2 separate regions of the Homo sapiens genome follow, and region 2 is linked to region 1. A link means that fine-mapping ties the variant in region 1 to the expression of a gene that starts in the linked region. Tissue or cell type: whole blood. Region 1 holds a variant in brackets; the other region holds the start of a gene. All regions are shown on one strand. Distances are from middle to middle.

Region 1 (8,100 bases):
CACAAGTCCCAGAACAGGGGGAGGAAAATGAAGGGCACAGGAAAAGCCGGGCCCTGGGGAGGAGATGGAGGAAAAGGGAAGTCAGACAAGATTCCCCAGTGCCAGTGACGGGCACCACTGCCTCCCCAGAGCCACCACAAGCCAGCCGCCCCTTGGCAGCAGGGGTCTGGGAGCCCTTGGCAGTTCAACCCTGTACGGACACCGTTTGAGGGGCTAGAAATAAGCCAGGATGAAATGTTATGAAATAATAATAATAGTCCCTTCTCTGGCCCACTGCAGAACCCTAGAAAGTAAGGGACTGGGGCCAACGGCAGCTGCAGTCAAGGTGCCTGCAGCTATGTGACCCCAGGGCCTAGCCCGCCCCTGCCTCCCGCCCTTCACTTAATTCCAAATACCTTTTCTCTTGTCAGCCGCAAGTCAGTGGGCTTCAAAGTCAGGCGGTGGCTCCCGTGACCCTTTGTGGGGAGGGCAGGGGTGGGCCCAGCTTCTGTGTGTTCTGCTCAGTGGGCCAGGAGGCCCCAGGCCTGCAACGAGAGGGAGGGAGGGAGCTCGGCCTGCCGGTCATTGCTCCGCACCTAGGCCCTTGCAGCTTGGAACGGACCAGCAGCCGGGAACAGCTGGTCCGATCCCACCGCCCTGCTAGGGAGGCTGCCCAAGGTACCCGGAGAGCCTTGGACTGGGGAGCTCAGGGCTGGATGAGCCAGAGCTCCAGGAGAGGAAGGCTGCGCTCACCTGAACTAAAAGTCGTGTTACAATCATACCTGCAGGTGTCAACCTCACTTTCGTTGCAGAGAGGAGGGTCTGGAATCACATGCTCCTCCAGGCAGCATTTTACAGAAAGCTGCCCTGACAGCCACGACGTACTCCCCCACTTCTACCTCTATCTCGGATTCTGTTGCAGAATGTGGCGAGGTATCACAGGGCTGCCAGCCACGGACAGGTTTGAGGGGACCGGAGTAGGGGGTTGCAGGGACGAGCTGGCAGGATCCAAATCCCTCCCGTCAGATGTGTCTCCACCCACAGCTTCCTTTTCCATTGGAGCAAACATAACAAAACAAGTGTCAACTACACTTCCTGATTCCTGAGTTACGAAAAGCCAGTGCCACCCACAGGTCCGTCCACCCCCTCCTCTTGACCCGGCCCTTCCAGTGGCACCTTATTCTGTTATTTGCTCTCTATTTTTCTTTAAAAGCATTCACTGCTATTACTTAGGTAAATGCATCCATAAGGGAACTTTATGTGACTACTGTTAGGTGGAAAAAAAACTAAGATCATGGGCCATAAATAGAAGGTAAAAGTAAAAATAAATTACAATTAAAATAAGCAATGTTAGGAAATTCTAGCTGGCTATTGTTGCCTGCCGATGGCATTTTGATAGAAAAGCGTTGGGGAGTTGCAAGCTTCCCCTCCAGGGGACCAGAGGGCTGAGACAGAGAAGGGAATCACCTTTGTGTGGTATGAGGCTGTGTGATCCCTGACGTCACTGTCTCCTAGGTCACCGAGGGTGCCCACCCCACACTGGGGAAACACTGACCTGAGGGGCACCCCTAAGCCAGTGAACCAGGGGACAGGGCTCCTTGCGAGGCAAGGACCAGATGGCATTTAACGCTGATAGGCACTATCATGACCTCCTGGGCATGAAACAGGTACCTCCCTGGTCCTTTTTCCAGAAGAGGTTGCAGAAGCCCTCTGGACAGGCCTGGCTCATGTCCTCCTGCTGGAGCGGGCTGACATAGCCCTCAGCCCTCCACTCCCAGCGTGGCCCGTCCGCTCTCCACAGATGTGCCACGCTTTCTCTAGGGTCCCCGCCCTGGGATTCCCTCCCGACCTGGCACATCTCAGTCAACCCCACCTGCCTTCCAGGTCCCCTCCGCCAGCCCTCGGCGGCCTCTCTGGGGCAGGACAGCATCCTCCTGAGGACCATGATGTCTGTAGTACTGTTCTGCCATCCGGAACTTCTCGTAAGTGGGACCCCACTGACCACCCTCTCGATTTCTAAGTGAAGCCAGAGAGTTGGATCACAATTATCCCCTGTGCCAATAATTTCCTTTATGAGAAATGCAGTTGTAAGTCTTAGAAAGGGACATGTGAATTAAAACAGGCAGTCACGCAGAACAAGGGGGAGGGAACGCATGAGGGTGCCAGGAGGTCCCCAAATTGTCCTCCAGGTGGAGACCAGCTGGGATGGCGGTGACGTCTCACCTGCACCAGGACTGGCAGCTCTGTCACATCCCCACAACACAGGGCCCTGGCAGGCCTCACTCTGCACTGGCTGGCTGTATCTGGGGCACAGACACACGGGCTGGTGGCGTATGTCACAGGTGGCAAATGTGTCACTTGGCCTCAAGACTCCCTGCATGCAGTGGAGACAGTGAGGCCTCTGTCCACACAGGCCCCAGCTGGGCCATGACCCGCTCTTGAGGCCCATCCCTTACCCTGACCTCACAGCTTCCCTGGTTGCCTTCCAGGGTCAGCAGAGCAGCCTGGATGCACTCAGAAGCCCCGGGGGACTCAGGCCACTCTCCCTGAGACCCAAGAGCATCCCCCTGCAGCTTGTGATGAGCCCTGGGTAGGGAAAAGGTGACACAAGGGGGCTCATAGCCACCACCAGGTCCAGCTGGGCCAGGGCACTCATCCCAGTCTATGGGGAGAGTCCACCTTGGCTCCAGCTGGCAGGATGAATTAGGAAATGAGAGCCAGCCCTTTGCAGCCTAGAGCAGTGGCTCAGGCAGGGCCTGGCCAGGGGCTGTGGGCAGGAGTGTCTGAGGCTGGAGGAGCAGCCCCCAGGCATCCCATCGCACTCCCTCAGGGCATCCGAGGAATCCCACCTTGACTCCTCTCGGTCTTAGCTCCAAAGCCACGTCCAAGCAGGTGAAACAGGAAGCCCCCTCCCCAAGGGGCTTTCTAGGGCAGAATGCCTGAAAGATCAGGGCAATCACCACAAACACAGATGGAAATCGGAAAGCCGGCTCCTAAAACATCTCAGGGCTCCACGCTAACACGGAGACAGGAGAGGACCACGGGTGGGGCAGGGGTTTTAATGCTGCCCAGATCTGGGTGCAAGTCTCAGTGCCACCCCGTGCCAGCCATGTGGCTTTCAGCAAGTGACTTCCCTTCTGTGAGCCTGTTTCTGCATCTGCCAAATAGGCCTGATGATAGCACTGACCAAGCACAGGCTTTCTGTGAATTTTCATACATTTGTATGGAGGGTGCACAATACCTGGGATGTATAGATGAAATTTGTATAGGTGGTCGCAGTTATTACTATTATTATTATTATTTACAGACAGGATCTTGCTCTGTCACCCAAGCTGGAGGGCAGTGGCACCATCACAGCTCACTGCAGCCTCAACCTCCTGGGTTCAAGTGATCCTCCCATCTCAGCCTCCCAAAGTGTCGGGATTACAGGCATGAGCCACCGTGCCCAGTTTGCAATGATCATTACTGAATATCACGTACATACGTGTATTGGCAGGTGTTAAACGTGTAAGATACTTTTAAGTAAAGAAACTTAAAACAGACTATTTCTATGAGTTAGTTTAATTTAGTCTATAGATGAGAAGATATATACACAGTTCTGTTTCATTTCAGCTCCTGGAACAAGGGCCTGTCTGCCCACTCTTATAAGACAGATGTATCTCTCCATCCTGGCACCGCCCAGCCACCACCCCCTCCCAGGCCATGGGCCCTGCTGCATCCCCCCGTGGCCCTAACCAGGGACCTTTCTTCTTTGTTTTCTTTTCTTTTATTTATTTATTTTTTAACACAGAGTCTCCCTTTGTCGCCCAGGCTGGAGTGCAGTGGCACGATCTCGGCTCACTGCAACCTCTGCCTCCCGGGTTCAAGTGATTCTCCTGCCTCAGCCTCCTGAGTAGCTGGGATTACAGGCGCCCGCCATCACACCCGGCTAATTTTTGTATTTTTAGTAGAGACGGGGTTTCACTATGTTGGCCAGGCTGGTCTGGAACTCCTGACCTCAGGTGATCCACCCACCTTGGCCTCCCAAAGTGCTGGGATTACAGGCATGAGCCACCGCGCCCGGCCTGTTTTCTCATTTGTGAAGATGCAGGGCTGCTGTGAGGACTGGGTGAGAGGCGCACCTGGCACGTAGCAGGTTCTCACTGGGCGAGTTGCCCCCAAGCCCCAGCGACAAGCCCAGCCAAGGCCCCCGCTCCCCGCCTGGGGAGGTCAAAGGGGCAGGTGGGAAATTGAAACCCGAGATGAATGGCCATTCTGCAGCTGGAGTCCAGAAAGATTCTGGGCATGGGAGCATCACTGGAAAAGGAAATGTGG[G/A]GCCCTTGCCCAGGGGAGGGACCGGGGGGGGGGTTCTAGATCCAGCTCTGCCCCCACCCAGGTCACCTCGCTGGCTACAAATGACGACCCCAAGTGGTGCAATGTAGATGTCCAAAGTGAGAAGCAAGGCTTGTGCAAGGCTGTGTGGGGGTTACCTGGGGGTTTGATCTCGGTACCATGAGTGACTCCCAGAATGAGACAATGTCTGCCCCTTCTGCAGGGCAGATGTGAGGAGCCTGAGGGACCTGCTCCCAGGCCACCAGCTCTTTGTGCAAATCTTGGTTTTCTGGTGCTTGGTTGGCTGGAAGAAGAGTGTGGCTGGATTGGGGGCGTGGTCTCTGCTCCCTCAGCCCCACCCACCAGGTGGGGGAAATGGAGGAGAGGGACCCACAGGAGGGTGGTCAGGGCAGCTAGAAGAGATTTGCTCAGGTACCACAGACCCTTGGTCCCTGGAGCACCCCTCTCTGCTAGGAGAGTTGGCAACCAGAACCAACAGTTTTCAAGGCTGCACACCTGGTGGAGGTTGTTGCGGGGGTTGGCCAGGTGCAGGCCCAGGCAGGCAGGGAAGCGCGGAGGCTGGGCTGGGCTGGGTTCCAAGGCAGGGCGGAGCCTCCCAGGGAAGCCGCAGTCACCCATCCGTCACTTATTCATCCATCAAATATGTACCGATGCATGGCCTGGGTGCCGAGACACCCACGACCAGACAGACACAGCCCTGCCTTCCTGGGGCCTGTGATGGGGTCAGCCACGTAGGTCAGTCAGGCCTGGTGGGCAGCAGCTAGGACTTTGCATCTTCCTCTCCGCAAGCCCCTGGGGGGTTCTGAGCCGGCAAGAGATGGGATTTGACTTGCATTTTAAAAGGGTCTTTTAGCTTCTGTGTGGAGAAGGGTGGAGCTGGGAGACTGTGGGGAACTGCGGCATTCTTATGGGGGAGCGGGGATGGCCCAGCCCTGGGTCCCAGGCACCCTGGAAAGGGGCCGGGGGCCAAATGTGTGAGGTTTTTGTTTCATTTTGTTTTTTTTCTGAGACGGAGTCTCGGAGTCTCGCTCTGTCACCCAGGCTGGAGTGCACTGACGGCGATCTCCACTCACTGCAACCTCCGCCTCCCAGGTTCAAGCGATTCTCCTGCCTCAGCCTCCCGAGTAGTTGGAATTACAAGCATGCACCTCCACACCCAGCTAATTTTTGTATTTTTAGGAGAGACAGGGTTTGTTTTTTTTTTTCTTTGAGACGGAGTCTCACTCTGTCGCCCAGGCTGGAGTGCAGTGGCGCGATCTCAGCTCACCGCAAGCTCTGCCTCCCCAGTTCACGCCATTCTCCTGCCTCAGCTTCCCCAGTAGCTGGGACTACAGGCACCTGCCACCATGCCCGGCTAATTTTTTGTATTTTTAGTAGAGATGGGGTTTCACTGTGTTAGTCAGGATGGTGTCAATCTCCTGACCTCATAATCTGCCCGCCTCGGCCTCCCAAAGTGCTGGGATTACAGGCATGAGCCACCGCGCCTGGCCTAGTAGAGACAGAGTTTCACCATACTGGCCAGACTGGTCTCGAACTGACCTCAGATGATCCACCTTCCTTGGCCTCCCAAGGGGTTAGGATTACAGGCTTGAGCCACCATACCGGGCCTCAAGTGTGTTTTAAAGTGAGAGCTCAGACGATCGCTGGTCTAGCTATGATTGTGCCACTGTACCCCAGCCTGGGTGACAGAGTGAAACCCTGTCTCAAAAAAAAAAAAAAAAGGCAACCCATCACGTGGATGTAATGGAGAGGTGGGGGTCAAGGGCTGCTCCAAGAGCTTTGACCTGAGGAAGCAGAGCACGCAATTTCCATTTGCTGTGGGAGGAGCAGGTTTCAAGCTTATCAGTGGAGGAGATGGGGTTTGGGAAACATTAAGTTTGAGGATCGAGGAACCCGTCCTTTGGGAGTGCAGGCCTAGAGGTCAGGGGAGGGGCCGGACTTCGGGGAGGAACCTGGGACCCAGCGCCTGGGATGGAAGAGCTCTCCCAGTAAGAGGGCGGGCAGGCAGTTTACACAGGACAGGAGGAGCAAATGAGAGGCAGGGAGGCAAAGTGGGAGGCAAAGCCATGTCCTGGGGCCAGGAGAAGGGTGTGTTGACAGACAGAAGGAGTGAGCGGCCATGTCTGAGGCTGCTGGCAGGTGGAGGACTGTGATGGTCAATGCTGACCTTGGCAAGAGCTGTTTGGGTGGAATGGCAGGGCTGGGAGCCCAACTTTGGTGGGCCTGGGGGATGATGGGGGCCGGGGGAGGAGCGGAGAGACAGCACAGAGACCACCCTTCCAAGGGAATATGCTGGAAGGGGATCGGATAAGCACGGCGGAAGCTAAAGGGGATTGTGGGGTCAGAGGGTGGCTTCTTACAATCTGGGGGCATTCCTGCATGTTTGTGGCATGCTGATGGGGCTGACCCAGGAGAGGAAACAGCTGGTGACGCAGGAGAGATGGGGCCATGTGAAGGGAAGCCAGGGGAAGGTGGAGAGGAAGCGAGGTGCACGGGGCCCGGGCAGGGAAGGACCTGACGGGCATGAGAGGAGGGACAGCTGATGGGCATGAAAGGAGGGGCAGCTGCCCAGGGGGACACCCAGGGAGGCTGGTGAGTGCAGGGCCAGGAATGCCTCTGATTGCCTCTGCGTTTTCAATGAAGCTCATGCCTGTAATCCCAACATTCTGGGAGGCCAAGGCAGGAGGATGTCTTGAGCTCAGGAGTTTGAGGCCAGCCTGTGCAACATAGTGAGACCCTGTCTCTACAAAAAAGAAAAAGAAAAAAAAGCTAGCCAGGCGTGGTGATGTGTACCTGTAGCCCCAGCTACTCAAGAAGGATGAGGAGGGAGGATCACTTTAGCCCAGAAGTTTGAGGCTGCAGTGAATCGTGATCACACCACTGTACTCCAGCCTCAGCAACATAGCAAGATCCTGCCTCAAAAAAAAAAAAAAGCAACCTATCATCCGACAGTGAGAATGAGGGCTGAGGGAGGGTGGGGTATTGGAGGTTTGGGGAGAGAGAGAAGTTGTGGTCTGGGAGACGGGGGCTGCAAGCTGACCGAGGAACACAGAGGATTGCTGGACAGCACAAATGTTTGTTGGAGGTCAAGGTCATGAGATATAAAGCTGTTTGTGCCATCAGGTGGCTTTGTCCAGGGCTCCGCTGCTTGGATGTCAGAGCACACTGAGCAGCACCCAGAACTCAACCGGGACAGGGGTTCTGCCAGGTGGATGGAGGAGGGGGAGGGCAGGGTGACTGAGGGCGTCTGCAGCAGACAATGAGCCTGGAACCCAAGGAAGCAGAGGACACGGGAGGTGAAGGAAAAGGAATGTGCCCTGGGGGCAGATGGCAAGAGGCAAAGAAAGATCAGAGTTAAGGTTGCAGAGGGAATGTGTGGAAAGACAAGAGGCAGTGCTCCAAGATGGGATGCTTCAGGCGGAAATGGCAGATGGGAGGGTGTTACTGACCAAGTCAGGACCCAGGGTGTATCATGGACGTGGCTGTTGACGTAGGGGCTGACAAGGGGGTGGGGGGAAGGGCGAAGAAGATTTCAGAACAGATGTAGGGGCTCCCACCTGTAATCTCAGCACTTTGGGAGGCCGAGACTAGAGGATCACTTGAGCTCAGGAGTTTGAGACCAGCCTGGGCAACATAGTGAGACCTCGTCCTTACAAAAAATACAAAAATTAGCTGGGCATGGTGGCATGTGCCTGTGGTCCCAGCTGCTTAGGAGGCTGAGGTGGGAGGTTTGCTTGAGCCCAGGAAGTCAAGGTGGCAGTGTGCTGTGATTGTGCCCCTGCACTCCAG
Region 2 (8,100 bases), 100 kb after region 1:
AGACAGAGTGTGGGCCCCCAACAGACCCAGAGGATGGGGCCACCCAGAAGAGGCTGACCACTTCTCAGCTGGCCCCAGTGAATGAAAGGAACTTCAAAGATCCCCAAACTCACCTTGTGGGGGACTAGGAGGTGCCACGAGGAGCTGCCCATGTGAGGGGCCTGGTCCTTCTGCCCCCAACCTGTAGGTGGAAATCCACCTCCATCCCTGCCCTGTTTCCCCATCTGGGCCCCCAGATTCATGTTCTGGGGTACAGCTCTGAATGAGGGGCTGAGGCTGAGACTGACATTTGCTTCCTTATGGGCCCTGGTCCCACAGCACTTGGCAGTAAAGCGGTGGGGGTCGATCAAACCAAGATCATATTCACCAAGAGCTGGGCCCTGAGAACTGGCCTTGGCTCCACTGACAGCGGAAGCTGATTTGGAGGAACCTCTGGTGAACTCCCACCCTGGAAACAGATGGGTTTGGGCTCAGATCTTGACTCCACCCCTTGCTGGTATGTGACCTCAAGCAAGGTGTGTAAACTCTTAGTTTCCCCCAATAAACACTGGGCCATGACAGAAAGAAGACCCCAAATCAGTGCTGATAATATTTTCTGGAGCTGTGGGCTTGCAGTGTGCCAGACACTGTGGATCCCAGACTTCACTGTTGCATACAGAGTCCTCACAGCTGTAAAGCCGGTAAGAGCTCCCAGATCCCTCTGCATGCTAGTGATGTCTCAAAGGTGAACTTCAAACATAAATAAATAAAGTCTTTTTTTTTTTTTTTTTTTGAGACGGAGTCTCACTCTGTTGCCCAGGTTGGAGTGCAGTGGCGCCATCTGGGCTCACTGCAAGCTCCGCCTCCCGGGTTCACACCATTCTCCTGTCCCAGCCTCCCAAATAGCTGGGACTACAAGCACCCGCCACCACGCCCAGCTAATTTTTTGTGATTTTTAGTAGAGACAGGGTTTCACTGTGTTAGCCAGGAAGCTCTTGATCTCCTGACCTCGTGATCTGTCCGCCTCGGCCTCCCGAAGTGCTGGGATTACAGGCGTGAGCCACCGCGCCCGGCCATAAATAAAGTCTTTGTGTGCCTTTAAGACAGGCACCAGGGAAGTGAAGGGCAGTGTATTTTTACTTCTACGTGTTATCACCTGAGCAAGTTCCACAGCCTGTAGGTCTGTATCACCAATAAAATGTAGGTAGGACATCCTTTATCTGAAGTCCCCTGAAATTTCAATCCTGGCTTCTCTGGGAGGAGGCCTGGAGAGGTGCTATTGGTCACAGGGGCCCAAAGCGTTTGAGATTGTTCGAGGGGGCCAAGGGAAGGACACAGCACCAGCCCTGGGGCCATGTGATCTTGGGCAAGTCTCACGCTGTCAGTGTCCGAGTTTCCTCATCGGAAAAATGAAGTAAACACCCGCTAACTCTGTCTTCACTCTCAACGCCTGGCATGGAGTAGATGCTAAGAAACTTTTGCAGAAATCTTGGAAATTCTTAAGACTAAAGAAAGACCCAGAGACCACAGGGTGGGCTACTGGGTCTCTCCACTCCCACCAAGGGATGAAGTAGGTGCTGAGAACTCAGAAGGAAGCCCCAAAAAGCAGAGACTCAGAAGATCCCCTGAGGAGGCGGTGAAGCAGCAGGACGTCTGGTCATGGGCCTCCCCCCTGAGTCCAGCCCCACAAGGTCCACCTATCTCTGGGAGACTCTGCAGACCTCGTTCATCCTTCAGGGATCCACTCATGGACCCTCCTCAGGCAAACCTCCAGACCATTTCCAAGAGCCTCCAGAGCTGTCTGGGCAGCCCCCACCCCAGGCACCTTTGAAACCCCTGGGAGCAGCAACCAGCCCCCTTCAGGCCTCTTGGTCCAGATAGAGCGCCCCCAGGAATCAGCAATCCTGTCCCTCTCTTCTCCCACTGTCTCAGTCCCCAGCTGGGACCTGAAGGGTTCAGGATAAGAAGGAAAGCTGTGTCAACAGAAGTTAAGTCGGTGAGTCCCCGGGCCTTTGGTATTCACCTCCCGTCTCGAGCGCAGGGTCCTGTCCCAGCTCCTAGCTCCGCCCCCTGGGAACTGTGTGGTTCCCCAAGTCACTCCACTCCTCCGAGCCTCAGGCCCCTCCTCTACAAACGTTAGAGTGAGGCATTGGGGAGTTGCTGGGAAGGGCCTGCCCCATATTAGGCCCATAATAATAGTCCCTATTGTCATTATTATTAGTTAGGCACGAAAGGAAAGGTTACAGAGCTGGTGATTAGGGCACTCAGCGTTTCGGCTCCCAGGACGCTTTTGAGCCTCAGCTGGTCGCGAGGTCCACACACTCCCTGGGTCATGCCTGGCCTCGGAACTCTCTCCATCAGAGAAGGTCAAAATTCACGATGTTTTGGTTTTTCCTGTCAGACAAATGGGGAGGACTTCCCTTCCGCAAGCATTCCCAGAGGCCCCTCGACCAAAAAGTCAAGGAGTCAGGCCCTACATTCTCTGCGGTAGAGGGTACCCCCAAAACCTCGCTCCTTTGATGTTCCCCAGTGTCAAGCCGGCGGCTCCACCAGCCTCCTGTAGAGAGGCCTTGACTCCCGCGGGTCACTCGGGGGGGCGACAGGTGCGCAGGTGGAGGCGCCGCGCCGCTGGGGGAGCGATGAGCGGCGCGCACCTGCCGCAGGTGAGGCCCAGCCGTGCGGAAAGGGGAGGAGCCGTCGCCGCAGCACTCAGGTGAGCCGACCCCCGGCTCCCGGGACCTAAGGCGAGGGCAGCCGCGGGCTTCAACGTGGCCGCTGCCAGGCGACCTATGCTGCAGACTGCGGCCCCGGCGGCTCCGAGTCCCGCGCGGCGCGGCAGCCCCAGGAGAACATTCGAGGCAGCAGCGGCGTTGGAGGCCCGGGGTCCGTTCGGTATTTGAATAGCACAAAGGAACCGCCTTGGTCTGATTGGCCAGCCGAGTAGCCCCGGGGCGGGCTGCGCCTGTCACTCAGGAGACTCTCAGAGCTCCTATTGGCTCTTCTCATGTGGGGCGGGGCCCGGGCACCCGGCTAAATAGCTGGGGCCGGGGCCGGCCGAGACTCATTGCTTTGGCGCCGTCTGGGGAGCGCGAGCCCGCGGGTGGCGCGCGGCGCATGGTGGCGGCTCCTTTCGGAGCGCAGCCGAACCTCTGACCCGGACTCCGTTACCCCTGCCCGGCGCGCCCCGGCGGCCGGCTGGAGGCAGAAACAGCAGAAGCGTTAACAGCAGCAGCGGCGGCGGCTGCTCCGCCGCCGTCTCCGCGGGAGCATGGAGTGCGCCCTGGACGCCCAGAGCCTGATCAGCATCTCCCTGCGCAAGATCCACAGCTCCCGAACCCAGCGCGGCGGCATCAAGCTGCACAAGAACCTCCTGGTGTCCTACGTGCTCCGCAACGCGCGCCAGCTCTACCTGAGCGAGCGCTACGCCGAGCTCTACCGGCGCCAGCAGCAGCAGCAACAGCAGCAGCCGCCCCACCACCAGCACCAGCACCTAGCGTACGCGGCGCCGGGCATGCCGGCCAGCGCGGCCGACTTCGGCCCGCTCCAACTTGGCGGCGGCGGGGACGCGGAGGCGCGCGAGCCGGCCGCCCGGCACCAGCTGCACCAGCTCCACCAGCTCCACCAGCTGCACCTCCAGCAGCAGCTGCACCAGCACCAGCACCCGGCGCCCAGGGGCTGCGCGGCGGCGGCGGCGGCCGGAGCGCCCGCGGGCGGCGCGGGGGCGCTCTCGGAGCTGCCCGGGTGCGCCGCGCTCCAGCCGCCGCACGGCGCGCCCCACCGCGGGCAGCCCTTGGAGCCTCTGCAGCCGGGTCCTGCGCCGCTGCCGCTGCCGCTGCCGCCGCCCGCGCCCGCTGCGCTCTGCCCGCGGGACCCTCGCGCCCCGGCCGCCTGCTCCGCGCCCCCAGGGGCCGCCCCTCCGGCCGCCGCCGCTTCTCCGCCCGCCTCCCCGGCCCCCGCCTCCTCCCCCGGCTTCTACCGGGGCGCATACCCTACCCCTTCGGACTTCGGCTTGCACTGCAGCAGCCAGACCACCGTGCTGGACCTAGACACTCACGTGGTGACCACGGTGGAGAACGGCTACTTGCACCAGGACTGCTGCGCCTCCGCCCACTGCCCCTGCTGTGGCCAGGGCGCTCCGGGACCGGGCCTGGCGTCCGCCGCCGGCTGCAAGCGCAAGTATTACCCTGGCCAGGAGGAGGAGGAAGACGACGAGGAGGATGCGGGCGGGCTGGGGGCCGAGCCCCCCGGGGGCGCCCCGTTCGCCCCCTGCAAGCGCGCCCGCTTCGAGGACTTCTGCCCGGACTCGTCCCCGGACGCGTCCAACATCTCAAACTTGATCTCCATCTTTGGCTCCGGCTTCTCGGGGCTGGTGAGCCGACAGCCGGACTCCTCGGAGCAGCCGCCGCCGCTCAACGGGCAGCTGTGCGCCAAGCAGGCGCTCGCCAGCCTCGGCGCCTGGACTCGAGCCATTGTCGCCTTCTAGGGACCCCCGAGGGCACAGGGACCCGGGGCCCCGCGGGGCTGGGGCCAGACAAAGACTCGGCAAAGGGGCGAGAGGAGGGAACGAGCGGGCGCCGGGCCACTCGGGGCTGAGCTGGGGGCGAGCGGGGGCAGGCGGCTGATGTTTTATAAATTGTAAAATAAAAAAAAAAGAAATCTAAAATCTTGGACTTTATTTTTGCAGAGAGAAAAAGCGCCTATTTAAGTATGCTTTGTGTTTCTCCTACTCCTTTTTTTCTTTTTATTGTAGTGATTGCAGTGGTGTTTAGCGAGGAGCCTACCACGTGAGGGAGGGCTGCTGCCCGGAGGAGGTGCCGGGCAGCCGGGGGCGAGGCAGGGCGCCCTGGCCGCCGGGGCGCGCCGGGGGCGCAGCTCAGGAGGGCGCCGGACCTGGGAAGCCGATTCCAATCAGTTGTCAGACCCGGGAAGCCCGACGTTCCGCTCTCCCGAGTCCCTCTGTGGGGTGAGGAATGGGTCTTGTGAAATTCTGAGCAAAAACAAAGGCAAACTCTATCTCCGAAAGGGACGTTTGGGTCACATTTCCTCTCTGGGGGCGGACTCCAAAGTTCTCAAAATGAGAAGGCAGAAATGAAAACACTTCAACTTTTTTTTTCTTTTCTTCCCGGGGCGGGTGTCTTGAACCCCTCTTCTCCCCGCCCCTCTGGCTCCGTTCTCCTCCCCTCCTCCACCCGTCTCCCGGACTCGGGGGTGGCGCCTGACACCCCGACACTCTCGGACACTGGGTAAGGGGTGGGGGGCGGGCACGGCGGACTACATTTCCCATCATGCCTAGCACTGCGGTCCTCACTAAACAAAAAAGGAAGTCAATTCCTTCACCTGGATCCCCGGCGGCCCCGGGGGAGGGAGGGGCCGGGACCGCCGACTGCGTTGGAGACTTTGCACTAAGTTCCTGGTCAGCTGTGGTGTTTGTGTGTGTGCTTCTAAGTTGCACTGCCTTGGTTCAGCCTTCGGTTGCATTTCATGAAACCAGCATTGTTCGAGCCTGTGAGAACCCCGTCCTGTGTCTTCAGCTCGATAGATTTGTTTAATTTAAAAGCCTTTTGTTGTAAAAAGGTGGGGTTCGTCTGCAGCCCCTCTGGTTCTCTGCCATCAGCACCGTGTGGACTCCAAAACGAGTTGCCAATCCTTCCTTTCTCGGCCCTTTTCCCTCATTACCCTGTATTTTTGTGCATACTGAATTGTATATCACCGGGTAAAACTGTTCAGATTGTTTAAATTTATAATCTTAATAAAAAGTCGATTACAGAAGATGGTGGTGCCTTGTTTTCAGATGTCTGGGGGCGTCAGAGAGGATAGAGAGGTGTGGGGAGAGACCCCGCCCACCCCCATGTAAACCCCAGTTCTCTTCGGCCTGGGCGGGCGGGATCTACCCACATCCGCAAGGTCGGCGGTGGGAGAATGGGGGGTGATGTTGGTGGCTGGGGATGAAGCGGGTGCTGCGCGTCTCTCGGCCGCCCCCGCTCCAGGGGGGTCCTGTCCCCCACGGGAACTGGCCGCCCCGGGGTCTCCAGCGGGAAGCGGAGCCAGCCTCCAGCACATTTCCTGCCCAGGCACAGGCGCAGGGCCTGGTCGGCCTCGAGTCTGAGCTCTCTGTGGCCGGGGAAAGCAGCCGGGGGACGCCGGGGGTTTCAGGGCCACCCGCACTCCCTGCCCCGCGCCTCTGCCCCGCACGTCCGCATGTCTCGGGCTGCAACTTGGGGAAGTTTTTTCCTTTTCTTTTTCCCTTTTTTTTTTTTAAGTTGAGTTTGTTATCACTGCTCGGTGCCACTTGGTGGTGTGCTGGCGGCGTCTCCCTCCCTCCTCGCGCCCCTCCCCTCTCCCTCTCCTTCCCTCCCACCCGCCGCTCTTCCCTCCCCAGTGGATGGAGGGAGGAAGGCTCCCGGCGCGCGCTCCCCTCTGACCACCTACGGAATGACCTCAGAGTGGGAGAATGTGCCAAGGCCCGGGGGAAGCTCGCGTTCTCCCCACTGGAAACAAATCCACATCTGGAGCCGCGGCTTGGGCCCAGGGGCGCGCGGGATAGTTCCAGCTTTGCAAAGAGGGGTTAGGAAAGAAAGAACGAGAAAAAGAAAGCAAAGTGGCAGCCTGCTGGCTGTTTGCTGCCGACTCCCCACAGCTCCTCGCTCTCGCTGGCTCCCTCGCCCCCACACTGCCCTCGCCGGTGCGAGCCTCGCAGCCACCCCGCAGGACGGCTCGCGCCCCCCACCCCAGCCTTCGCGCCTCCCGCGGCGACAGGAGGGGCTGCCGCCAAGAGGCCCCCAAGCCAGACTCTGAGAGGCGGACGCAAGCCTGTCCCCGGGGACTGCTCCGCTCTGGATCCCGGTGTCACGCGAGGCGAAGTTCTCGGGGACACTCTCCAGAATGCGGGGGTCCGCGGAGGTCCGCGTTGGGGGTGGGGAAAAAGGAGGCTCTGGGGGCGTGAGTCGCGGGGAGGAAAGGCACCTTCACCCCCAGGGCTGCTTCATCGGCCTCCCACGGGAAGAGTCTGGAGCTGCCGAGGAGGGGGAACAGTGCGTTTCCTCCCTCCCCATTTTCCCCTGCAAGTCCAAGGAAATCGCGGTTGGCTGCACGGTTTTGCTTCAATCCACGAAGCCAGTTGCCAGAGCTCCCCCTAGCGCCGCTTCGGGCGCGCTGCAGTGGCTGGGGCTGAGAGTGGGCGAGGCTCGGCGGAGGCGGCGGGGCTGTCGGGGGCCGCTTCGCGTCCACCCGGGGAGCTGCGTGGAGTCTGCATCTCGCCCTTGCCTGAGCTGGGTCCCGGGGCCGCGTGCGTCCCCACTCCAGGCCCACGTCGAGGAGGGGCACGTGGTCGGCCCCCTTTGTTGGGAGCTGGGCACTGGAAGGGACCGGCCAAAGGGCTTGGGAATTCCCCACCCGCCCCAGGGATCCCTGTGGTAAAGGAGAGTGGATGGTGGGGTGCGAAATAAGATCTCTGAACTCAGCAGGACCCCAGACGAGGGCTCCCCTCCCCTCTGCCGGGTGATCTGAGCCTAAGCCGCACACTGGAATCTAGCAATGCCAAGGGATGGGATGGGGCGCTCTGGGAGCACCCTAAAGAGAGGTGCCCTTCCCCTTCCCTTATCTTCTCGGGGCCCAAGGACCTGGGCAGCCCCACAAAGGGTTAGTGCCCTGAGTATAATTCCCCTTGACCCAAAACGCAACCCACTGGCAATCTACCCGTCTCACCAAGACATTCCACACAAAACTGTAACAGGCTGCACAGCCTTGATTCTACACTACACCCCACACTGAGGGCCACACCCAGCCACACACTGTCTCCAACACTTGCTCCTAAGCTGCATCTTCACCCCACTCACAATCCCTGGGGCCACTGGCGCAGCAGGAAACATACCAGCCTAGAACATCCAGAGAGACCGATGTTCCCGTGCATAGCACAAGTGAGAGGCTGGGTCCGGGAGGCGGGTGGATGGGGTTGCCTGGCCATGGGGGTCGTCTGAAAGGGGGATGGGGTCAGGCGGGCAGGCAAACCAGGAGTCCATTTCAGCTCCACAGACAAGCCTCTCTCCCTCCAGTAAAAAGACCAGTGGAGCCCCCAGACAGGACTTAGGGGTGCTGCTTAGGGAGGTAGGGGAATTAGAAGAG

Evidence for each region. PIP is the estimated chance that this variant, and not a neighbour inherited with it, causes the effect.
Region 2: it holds the start of IER5L, and the variant in region 1 is fine-mapped to the expression of IER5L in whole blood (TOPMed, PIP 0.92).

What each region holds. Positions count from the first base shown.
Region 1 is chr9:129,275,354-129,283,453 of GRCh38, reverse strand. LINC02975 (long intergenic non-protein coding RNA 2975) reads right to left here and starts at 1,038. Exons shown (of 3, transcript NR_121587.1): 1 at 762-1,038; 2 at 396-524. RefSeq lists enhancers at 4,606-5,514, 5,515-6,423. The variant G/A (reference allele first, on the strand shown) is at 4,294.
Region 2 is chr9:129,173,200-129,181,299 of GRCh38, reverse strand. IER5L (immediate early response 5 like) reads left to right here and starts at 3,039. Exons shown (of 1, transcript NM_203434.3): 1 at 3,039-5,748. The coding sequence starts at 3,248. The coding sequence ends at 4,462. RefSeq lists enhancers at 1,231-2,154, 2,155-3,078, 2,816-3,110, 5,485-5,544, 5,474-6,195 and silencers at 2,835-3,214, 3,445-3,784, 4,735-4,884, 5,225-5,274, 5,848-5,947 and 1 more.